Linked DNA regions of Homo sapiens: region 1 is linked to region 2. Evidence: fine-mapped expression QTL. A gene starts in region 2. The other region holds a variant in brackets. All regions are shown on one strand. Distances are from middle to middle.

Region 1 (4,000 bases), 43 kb after region 2:
ACTCTAAATTAAGGGAAGGTAAATTATGATCAAGATCTGGGAATAAGATTTAGACTTACACAGTAATAATTTGAGGAAGAGAAAGACTTAGTAAATTAGTTATGTAATTACATAATTAACAACTTGGGAGGTTTTCTTTACACGTTTATTCCCTAGGGCATCATCTTTAAATTATATTTAGTTTTTGCTAAGTTGACCAGTTTGTGGTTTTAAGTGTTTACTTTCTTTTCTTTTGAAATGTAGGGAAAGCATATTTGACATCATCTTAAAGAAATTATGTAGCCATATAAAACCGGAGGGTAGGGTCTACTGGCCAGGAAAAAAAAAGGCCTTTACTGCCACCTGGTGGCCATATTCTTTAACTGCAATGTGCCTAAGTGAGGCTGGAAAGGAAAGCGTTGGAAAACATGCTAAACCCAGAGGGCACCAAGGCCGCGTCATGACAGTAAGAGCCGTCAAGTACTGTGTCCTTTCCCTCAGTTCTCAATCTCTCACAGCTTGAGGCTTGAGAATTAGCAGCTGGCTACGAGAGGTGGAGGAGAGAAAATGGTGAAGTCCATGCCTTCCTCCTTGGTACCGAGTTTCCAAACCTGAAGTGAAGGAGTCTGAGAGGGGAGAAGCTTCAGGTTGAGTAGACTGTTTTTTACTTTTTTTTTTGTTTGTTTGTTTTAAAGAGCCTCTTTATTTAATGGCTCAGAGTGGCTAGAAAATCCGTGGTATTGGTTAGCTTTCATCTCAAGTGCAGGGACAAGGCAAATCCAGAGAGAGGAGTTGAAAGGACAAAGAAAAAAGAAAAAAAATTGCTTTTTACGTGCATTTTGCTGCATGCAGCTCACTCAATAAACATGCGTTAAATGCATAAATATATCATGAGGTAAAAATCGGGGGAAAGGTGATGCATTGATGCTGATAGAGGACAGGCAAACTGCATTCCATTTGGACCGCAGCCTCTCATCCCCCCCCCCGCCACACAAACTAAGGTCAAAATCAGGGAGGGAGTCCAGGGTAAAGTTATCAGTAGAGTCAGCTCTAGGAGCTATAGTTAATCTATTTTAAAAAATCTTAAAAAACCCATAAGTCCATTATAGCAGGGACATAAAGCAGTCCTAGCCTCCTGACCCTGACCCAGCCATGGCAATCAGGGCTGCTTCCTTTTATTCTCCCTTGTGTCCTCATGGGTCTTTCCAAGCCCTGCAGGGAAGGGTGGAAGCTGGTTCCATCAGTGCCTCTCCCCCAGCTTCCACCCTCCTCTCTCTTCTGTGACCTCTCAGTTTTCCTTCTCTGTACCCCAAATCATGCCTGTCTTAGTCCATTGCTGTAACAGAATTCTACAGACTGGATCATTTATAAAGACAAGAAATTTATTGCTTATAGTTCTGGAGGCTGGGAAGTCCAAGCACATGGTGCTGGCATTTGGTGAAGGCCTTCTTGCTGCATCCTCACGTGGCAGAGGGCATCACATGGCAAGTGGGCAAGAGCAGGCTTGTCCGCTTGGGTTACTCTAACTCTTCTTTTTTTTTTTTTTTTCTGAGACGGAGTCTTGCTCTGTCACCCAGGCTGGAGTGCAGTGGTGTGATCTCAGCTCCCTGCAAGCTCCGCCTCCCAGGTTCAGGCCACTCTCCTGCCTCAGCCTCCCAAGTAGCTGGGACTACAGGTGCCCGCCACCACACCCGGCTAATTTTTTTGTATTTTTTTGGTAGAGATGGGGTTTCACCGTGTTAGCCAGGATGGTCTCGATCTCCTGACCTCGTGATCTGCCCGCCTTGGCCTCCCAAAGTGCTGGGATTACAGGCGTGAGCCACAGCACCCGGCCAGGTTACTCTAACTCTTCTTATAAAGCCACCAGCCCCACCGTGGGGGCCACACACTCATGGCCTTATTTAATCTTAATTACCTCTCAAAGGCCCTACCTCCAAATGTCATCGATATGTGAATTTGGGAATTAAGTTTCCAGCACATGAAATTTGGGGGTCACATTCAAACCATAGCAATGCTTAACCTTAGAATACTGCCTGGCATCTGCCCAGGCTTCCACAGCCACTACCTCTGGGACATGTTGGGATCTCTGTTTACATGTAAGGCTCGCCATGACCATTACACATCTGTGAGTCAGTGTAGGGTCCTGGTGGAAGCCCGGTCTTGGAGTCCCTCCATTATGTTTGCTACCCTGGCTCTCCACCTTCAATTTCTGGCTTCTCATTTTGGACTATGATGATTTTCTTGTTGTTAATTTTTTTTTTTTTTTT[A/TA]GTATGAAAGTTTTCAAGACGCCTACAAGTGGAAAATGCACTCCTCCCAGCCAAATCAAGCTTCGCCAGATTCCTTACAGCTGTGTGCAGTGAAATGACTAATGAAAGAGCCCTCTGCTGCTGGTGGAACTTTCACATATGGCACTGTTATGCCACTCAGCAGGACCCGACCCTGGTATTTACATATTGGATGTCACCCCAAAAGCCCCTGACCAGGGGGTTTCCGGGATGTAATAAGAATGCCACTCTGGGCTTTGGAAGGTGCACCGTATGCACACCCATACTATAGGGCAGGGGTTAGCATTTCAGACCCCTGTTCCTCCCTTGACAAGCAAGTGCTTTTCTCCAGGGAAGACGTTCAGGTTCATTCATAGATCCATTGGTGCCGTGGGCAGCTCAGTAACAATAGCTCTGCTGCCTACCAGCTGCTGGTGGAGGTGTTGAGAATACCTAATGAGGAAGTCAGGGCCCCTGCGTGCTTCAGCAGAGCTGGATGCCTGGCATGGCAATCAATGGACACAAACCTTTGGATAATTTCCGTCCTTGGCGGTGTGTTCTATAGCATAGGTATGAAGTGGGTGCTCTGGGAGCTCAGAAGAGGGGCTCTTCTCTTAACTTATGGGTGGCCAGGGAAGGCTTCCTGGAGCTCAAATGACTGAGTGGAGTCTTCAACATTAAAAAAAAAAAAAAGAAAAAAAAAGTGCTTCCCTCCCACCCCCAGTTAAAAAGGTAATACACCTCATTGAAATAATTTAAACTTTACAGAAATGTGTTCCTTTAAAGTTCAGAGAGTAAAGAGGAAGTAATAAAGCTGAAATAGTAGAATTTCTAATTAACTGGAGCCTGTAGCTTTCTTCCTGAAAAGGGAGTGGTGTGTGTGCATGTGTGAGTGTGTGTAGGTGAATCTGTAAAGGATGGAGTAGTACTAAAAAGAGGGAGGTGAAGACGGAGGTGAGATCTCATCTTTGTGCCCTGAACCTCTTTGTTATAATGTCAGGCAATGAGAGAAATCAGTACTCACCCTCTATGGGACTCTGGCTTTTTCAAACTTGGTTTTCTAGGTTTTGGTCTTGGTTATTGATGGCTTGTAACTTCAGAGTCTCATTGCTGGCCACGCTTCCACGTGGTTTATTAAGATGTTTTCCTAAACAAAATTGATCTCTCCCTAAAAAAATTATAGGTCTAGCTGTAAGATGTTAACAATATTTAACCTGCTACAATGCCAATAAGAGTTCTTGTTTATTGAAGACTTTTTTTGCACCAGCTATGTGCTAAGAGCTTTACATTTGTTACCTCATAACATCAACCCTCACACGAACCTTATGAAGCGGGTATTTCATTATTCCCACATCCCAGATAAGGAAGCTAGGATTATTATTGCTGCACCCGCAAAGCTGATAATCAGTGGGGCTCGGCCCCAAACCGAGGTGTCTCTGACTCCTGGGTCTATGCTCACAAATGCACCATTCCTCTGCATTATTTCTCAAAAATATTTGGCTATAGGAGCATTTTCAAAAGTGAGCACCACTTACCTCTTAGTACTGTTATTAGCATTCCGTGGGACACAATTTGGGAAATACTGCCCCAGGAAAATACTGCCCTGTCTTTAAAATAGAGATAATAATACAATCTCCATATTGTGATGATTAAAAGACGTTTCAGGAAATGGGTGCTGAGGATACTTACCTTCCACCAGGAATGTGTGTGTGCTTTAAAAATAACATTTGTGGCCGGCCACAATGGCTCACAACTGT
Region 2 (4,532 bases):
CTTTTATTCTTTATTAGTCTAGCTAGCAGTCTATCTATTTTATTAATTTTTTTCAAAAAACCAGCTCCTGGATTCATTGATTCTTTGAAGGGTTTTTCATGTCTCTGTCTTCTTCAGTTCTACTCTGATTTTGGTTATTTTTTGTCTCCTGCTAACTTTGGGTTGGTTTGCTCTTTTTTCTCTAGTTTGTTTAGTTGTGATGTTAGGTTGTTAACTTGAGATCTTTTTAGCTTTTTGATGTGGACATTTAGTGCTATAAATTTCCCTCTTAACAGTGCTTTAGCTGCATTCTGGAGATTCTGGACATTGTAGTTTTGTTCTCATTGGTTTCAAAGAACTTCTTGATTTCTGCCTTAATTTCATTATTTAACCAAAAGTCATTCGGGAGCAGATTGTTCATTTTCCATGTAGTTATATGGTTTTGAGTGAATTTCTTAATCTTGTGTTCTAATTTGATTACACCTTGGTCTGAGAGACTCTTTGGTATGTTTTCAGTTCTTTTGCATTTGCCAAGGAGTGTTTTACTTCCAATTATGTGATCAATTTTAGAGTAAGTGCTGTGGCGATGAGAAGAATGTATATTCTGTTGTTTTGGAGTGGAGAGTTCTGTATATAGCTATCAGGCCCACTTGATCCAGAGCTGAGTTGAGGTCTTGAATGTCTTTGATAATTTTCTGTCTCAATGATCTGCCTAATATTGTCAGTGGGGTGATAAAGTCTCCCACCATTATTGTGTGTGAGTCTAAGTCTCTTTGAAGGTCTCTAAGTACTTTCTTTTTCTGGGTGCTCCTGTATTGGGTGTATATATACTTAGGTTAGTTAGCTCTTCTTGTTGAAATGAACCCTTTACTGTTATGTAGTGGCCTTCTTTATCTTTTTTGATTTTTGTTGATTTAAAGTCTGTTTTGTTATAAACTAGGATTGCACCTGTTTTTTTCTGTTTTCCATTTGCTTGGTAAATTTTCCTCTATCCCTTTATTTTGAGCCTATGTGTGTCTTTGCACGTGAGATGCGTCTCTTGAAGATAGCATACTAATGGGTCTTGGCTCTTTATCTAGCTTGTTATTCTGTATCTTTTTTTGGGAGGCATTTAGCACATTTTCATTTAAGATTAGCATTTTTATGTGTGGATTTGATCCTGTCATCATGATGCTGGCTGGTTATTTTGCAGGTTTATGTGGATACTTCATTGTATCATTGGTATGTCAGTGTGTTTTTGTAGTGGTAATGGTTTTTCCTTTCTATATTTAGTGCTTCCTTCAGGAGCTCTTGTAAGGCAGGTCTGGTAGTGATGAATTTCCTCAGCATTTGTTTGTCTGAAAAGGATCTTATTTCTCCTTTGCTTATGAAACTTAGTTTGCATATGAAATTCTGGGTTGGAAATTCTTTTCTTTAGGAATATTGAATACTGGCCCCCAATCTTTTCTGGCTTGTAGGGTTTCCACTCAGAGGCCCAATGCTTGTCCGATGGCCTTCCCTTTGTAGGTGACCTGGTCTTTCTTTCTGGCTGTCCTTAACATTTTTTTCTTTTTTCTTTTTTTTTTCAGATGGAGTTTCACTGTGTCACCCAGGCTGGAGTGCAGTGGCACGATCTCAGCTCAATGCAACCTCTGTCTCCTGGGTTCAAGCAAATCTCCTGCCTCAGCCTCTTGAGTAGCCTGAGTAGCTGGGACTAAAGGTATGTGCCACCACACCTGGCTAATTTTTGTATTTTTAGTAGAGACAGGGTTTCACCACGTTGGCCAGGCTGGTCTTGAACTCCTGACCTCAAGTAATCCACCCACCTTGGCCTCCCAAAGTGCTGGGATTACAGGCATGAGCCACTGTGCCCAGCCAACATTTTTTCTTTCATTTTGACTTTGGAGAATCTGCTGATACATATCTTAGGGATGATTTTCTTGAATAGTTATCTTACTGGGGTTCTCTTGTTCCTGAATTTGAATGTTGGCCTATCTTGCTAGGTTGGGGTCATTCTCCTGGATGATATCCTGAAGTATGTTTTCCAACTTGGTTCTATTCTTCCTGTCTCTTTCAGGTACCCCAATCAGTTGTAGGTTTGGTCCTTTTACATAAACCCATATTTCTCAGAGGTTTTATTCATTCATTTTCATTCTTTTTTCTCTATTCCTGTCTACCTGTCCTATTTCAGAGAGATAGTCTGCAAGCTCTGGGATTCTTTGCTCTGCTTGGTCTATTCTGCTATTAATACTTGGGATTACATTGCGAGTACTTGTAGTATGTTTTTCAGCTCTGTGAGGTCGGTTATGGTCCTTTCTATACTGGCTGTTTTGGCTGTCAGCTCCTGCATTGTTTTATCATGATTCTTAGCTTCTTTGCCTTTGGTTAGGACATACACCTTTAGCTCAGCAAAATTGGCTTTTGTCCACATTCTGAAGCTTACTTCTGTCATCTTGGGCTCAGCCTAGTTCTGAGCCCTTGCTGGAGAGGTGTTGTGATCATTTGGAGGAAAAGGGGCTCTCTGGGTTTTTGAATTTTCAAGATTTTTGCGTTGATTCTTTCTCATTTTTGTGGGCTTATCTATCTTCGATCTTTGAGGTTGCTGACCTTTGGATGGCGCTTTCATGGATTGTTTTGTTTTTTCATCTTTTTCTTTTAGCAGTCTGTTTACTCTTCCTTACAGATGCTGCAGTTAGCTGGGGGTCCACTCTACACCCTGGTTGCCTCAGTTTTTCCTGTACTTGGAGGTATCAGCAGTGAATGCTATGAAACAGCAAAGATGGCAGCCTGCCCCTTCCCCTGGAAGCTCCATCCCAGGGCGGTACTGTCCTGTTGCCAGCATGAGCACACAGTATGTAGGGGGTGGCTGGAGACCCCAGTTGGGACATCTCACCTAGTCAGGAGGAACGGGATCAGGGATCCACTTAAAGAAGCAGTTGGGCTGTTTTTGATAGAGCAGTTGTGCTGTGTTGGGGATCCCATCAGCCCCTTGTTGGTTTGGGCTCTCCGAGGCCCACAGGCTGAACTGGCTGAGGTGCCCAACAGCCAAGTTGGTGGCCCGCCTTCCCCTCTGGGCACTCTGTCCCAGGGAAAAATTAGAAGTCTGTTGGCCACAGAACATGGGCGGGGGTGGCTGGATACCCCAGCTGGCATGATCTACCCGTCAAGGAAAAGTGGATCAGGGTCCCACTTAAAGAAGCCATCTGGCCATGCCTCAATAGAACAGCCTTGTTGTGCTGGGAAACTGCTTCTGCCCTTGTTGGCTTGGACTCTCTAAAGCCCACTGGTTGGAATGGCTGAGTCATTCAAACAGCCAGCTTGGTGGCCCTCCTTTCCTCCCCTCCTCCCCTCCCCTCCTCCTTCCCTCCTCGCCTCCCCTCGGGCATGCTATTCCAGAAAGAGATCAGGATCCGTTTGTGGAATACAGGCAGAGATGGCTGGAGGCCCCGGTTGGGAGGTCCCTCCCAGTGAAGAGGAATGGATTGGGGCCCCACTTAAAGAAGCAACCTGGCCACGTTCAGGCAATGCCGCTGTAGTGTTCTGGGAAGACCCTTCCTTGTTTGAACCATATGGATTCTCCGAAGCCCATAGACTGAAATGGCTGAGTCAACCAAACAGTAGAGATGGCAGCCCACCCCTCCCACTGGGGACTCTGTCCCATCACAGGTAGGCTATATTCCAAGCCAGTAGGTCTTATTTTGTGAGGTGTTGTGGAAGTGGGACCCACAGATTGATGCTGCTTGGCTCCCTGGATTCAGCCCCCTTCCTAGGGGTATGTACAGACCTCCCACCTTGCCTGAGTTACAGACACCTCTGTTGGGGATCCTGGGGCCGGAATATGTAAAGTTCCTGGATCTCTATGCATGCCTGAGCAGCTGCTCTGCTGAGACTCAACACACCTCTGTGTGTGGGACCCAAGACCCTGGTGATGTGGGTGCACAAGGTGGTGTGGGTGCACTGATCTCCTGATCTGTGGGTTGCAAAGATCCGTGGGAGAAGCGTGGTTTCCTGGGGTTGCACACTCACTCACTGCTTCCCTTGGCTGGGGGTGGGAGTTCTCTTGGCTTCATGTTGCTCCCAGGTGGGCTATTGCCCCACCTTGCTTTTCTCTCTTCTCCATGGGTCGAGTTGTTTCTGTGATCAGTCCCAGTGTGAGTGCCTGGATATTTCAGTTGAAGGTGCTATATTCACTTGCTCCTTTCTTCCTCTCCCTGAGTGCCACAGACAGCTGCTGCTTCTAATTGGCCAACTTGGCCCCCCTCCCCTGGGTTCTTAATAACGTAATTAAACCACAACCCATCCTAAAACTTATCCTACTTCTAGATTTCTGTTGAGTTCAGAAATACCCTCATTTTTAAAGATAATTGGAGTCAGGGTTTCTGTTACTTGCTGTCAAAAGCATTCTTAATTAGACTTGCTAATATTTGACTTTGGATTTTAAGAATAACCCAATATGTATTTTATTTTTACTATTGTTTAGTATTTAGTATACTTTAGTATCAGAATTAAATTTGTCAGTGAAGTGTATTGGGAAGTTTTTCATAGTTTGTACTGGCCGAATGTTTAAATAATCC

Which allele goes with the higher level. Positions count from the first base shown, and alleles are read on the strand shown. Sizes are in standard deviations (SD) of each study's normalised expression.
In carriers of allele A in region 1, the expression in prefrontal cortex of the gene that starts at base 2,640 in region 2 tends to be lower than with TA alone (large effect, 1.0 SD a copy in BrainSeq).

Evidence for each region. PIP is the estimated chance that this variant, and not a neighbour inherited with it, causes the effect.
Region 1: its variant is fine-mapped to the expression of PRDX6-AS1 in prefrontal cortex (BrainSeq, PIP 0.95).

What each region holds. Positions count from the first base shown.
Region 1 is chr1:173,416,871-173,420,870 of GRCh38, reverse strand. PRDX6-AS1 (PRDX6 antisense RNA 1) reads left to right here. Exons shown (of 2, transcript NR_125960.1): 2 at 2,249-3,082. All of the region lies in intron 2 of LOC100506023 (a long non-coding RNA gene), which reads left to right. It also overlaps a transcript of TNFSF4 not described here. Among named protein-coding and RNA genes, the nearest start is that of PRDX6-AS1, 42 kb to the left of the region's middle. RefSeq lists enhancers at 492-591, 2,350-2,689. The variant A/TA (reference allele first, on the strand shown) is at 2,247.
Region 2 is chr1:173,459,470-173,464,001 of GRCh38, reverse strand. It overlaps PRDX6-AS1 (PRDX6 antisense RNA 1), which reads left to right and starts at 2,640. Exons shown (of 2, transcript NR_125960.1): 1 at 2,640-3,624. It overlaps LOC100506023 (a long non-coding RNA gene), which reads left to right. Exons shown (of 3, transcript NR_037845.1): 2 at 1,548-1,678. RefSeq lists an enhancer at 3,411-3,910.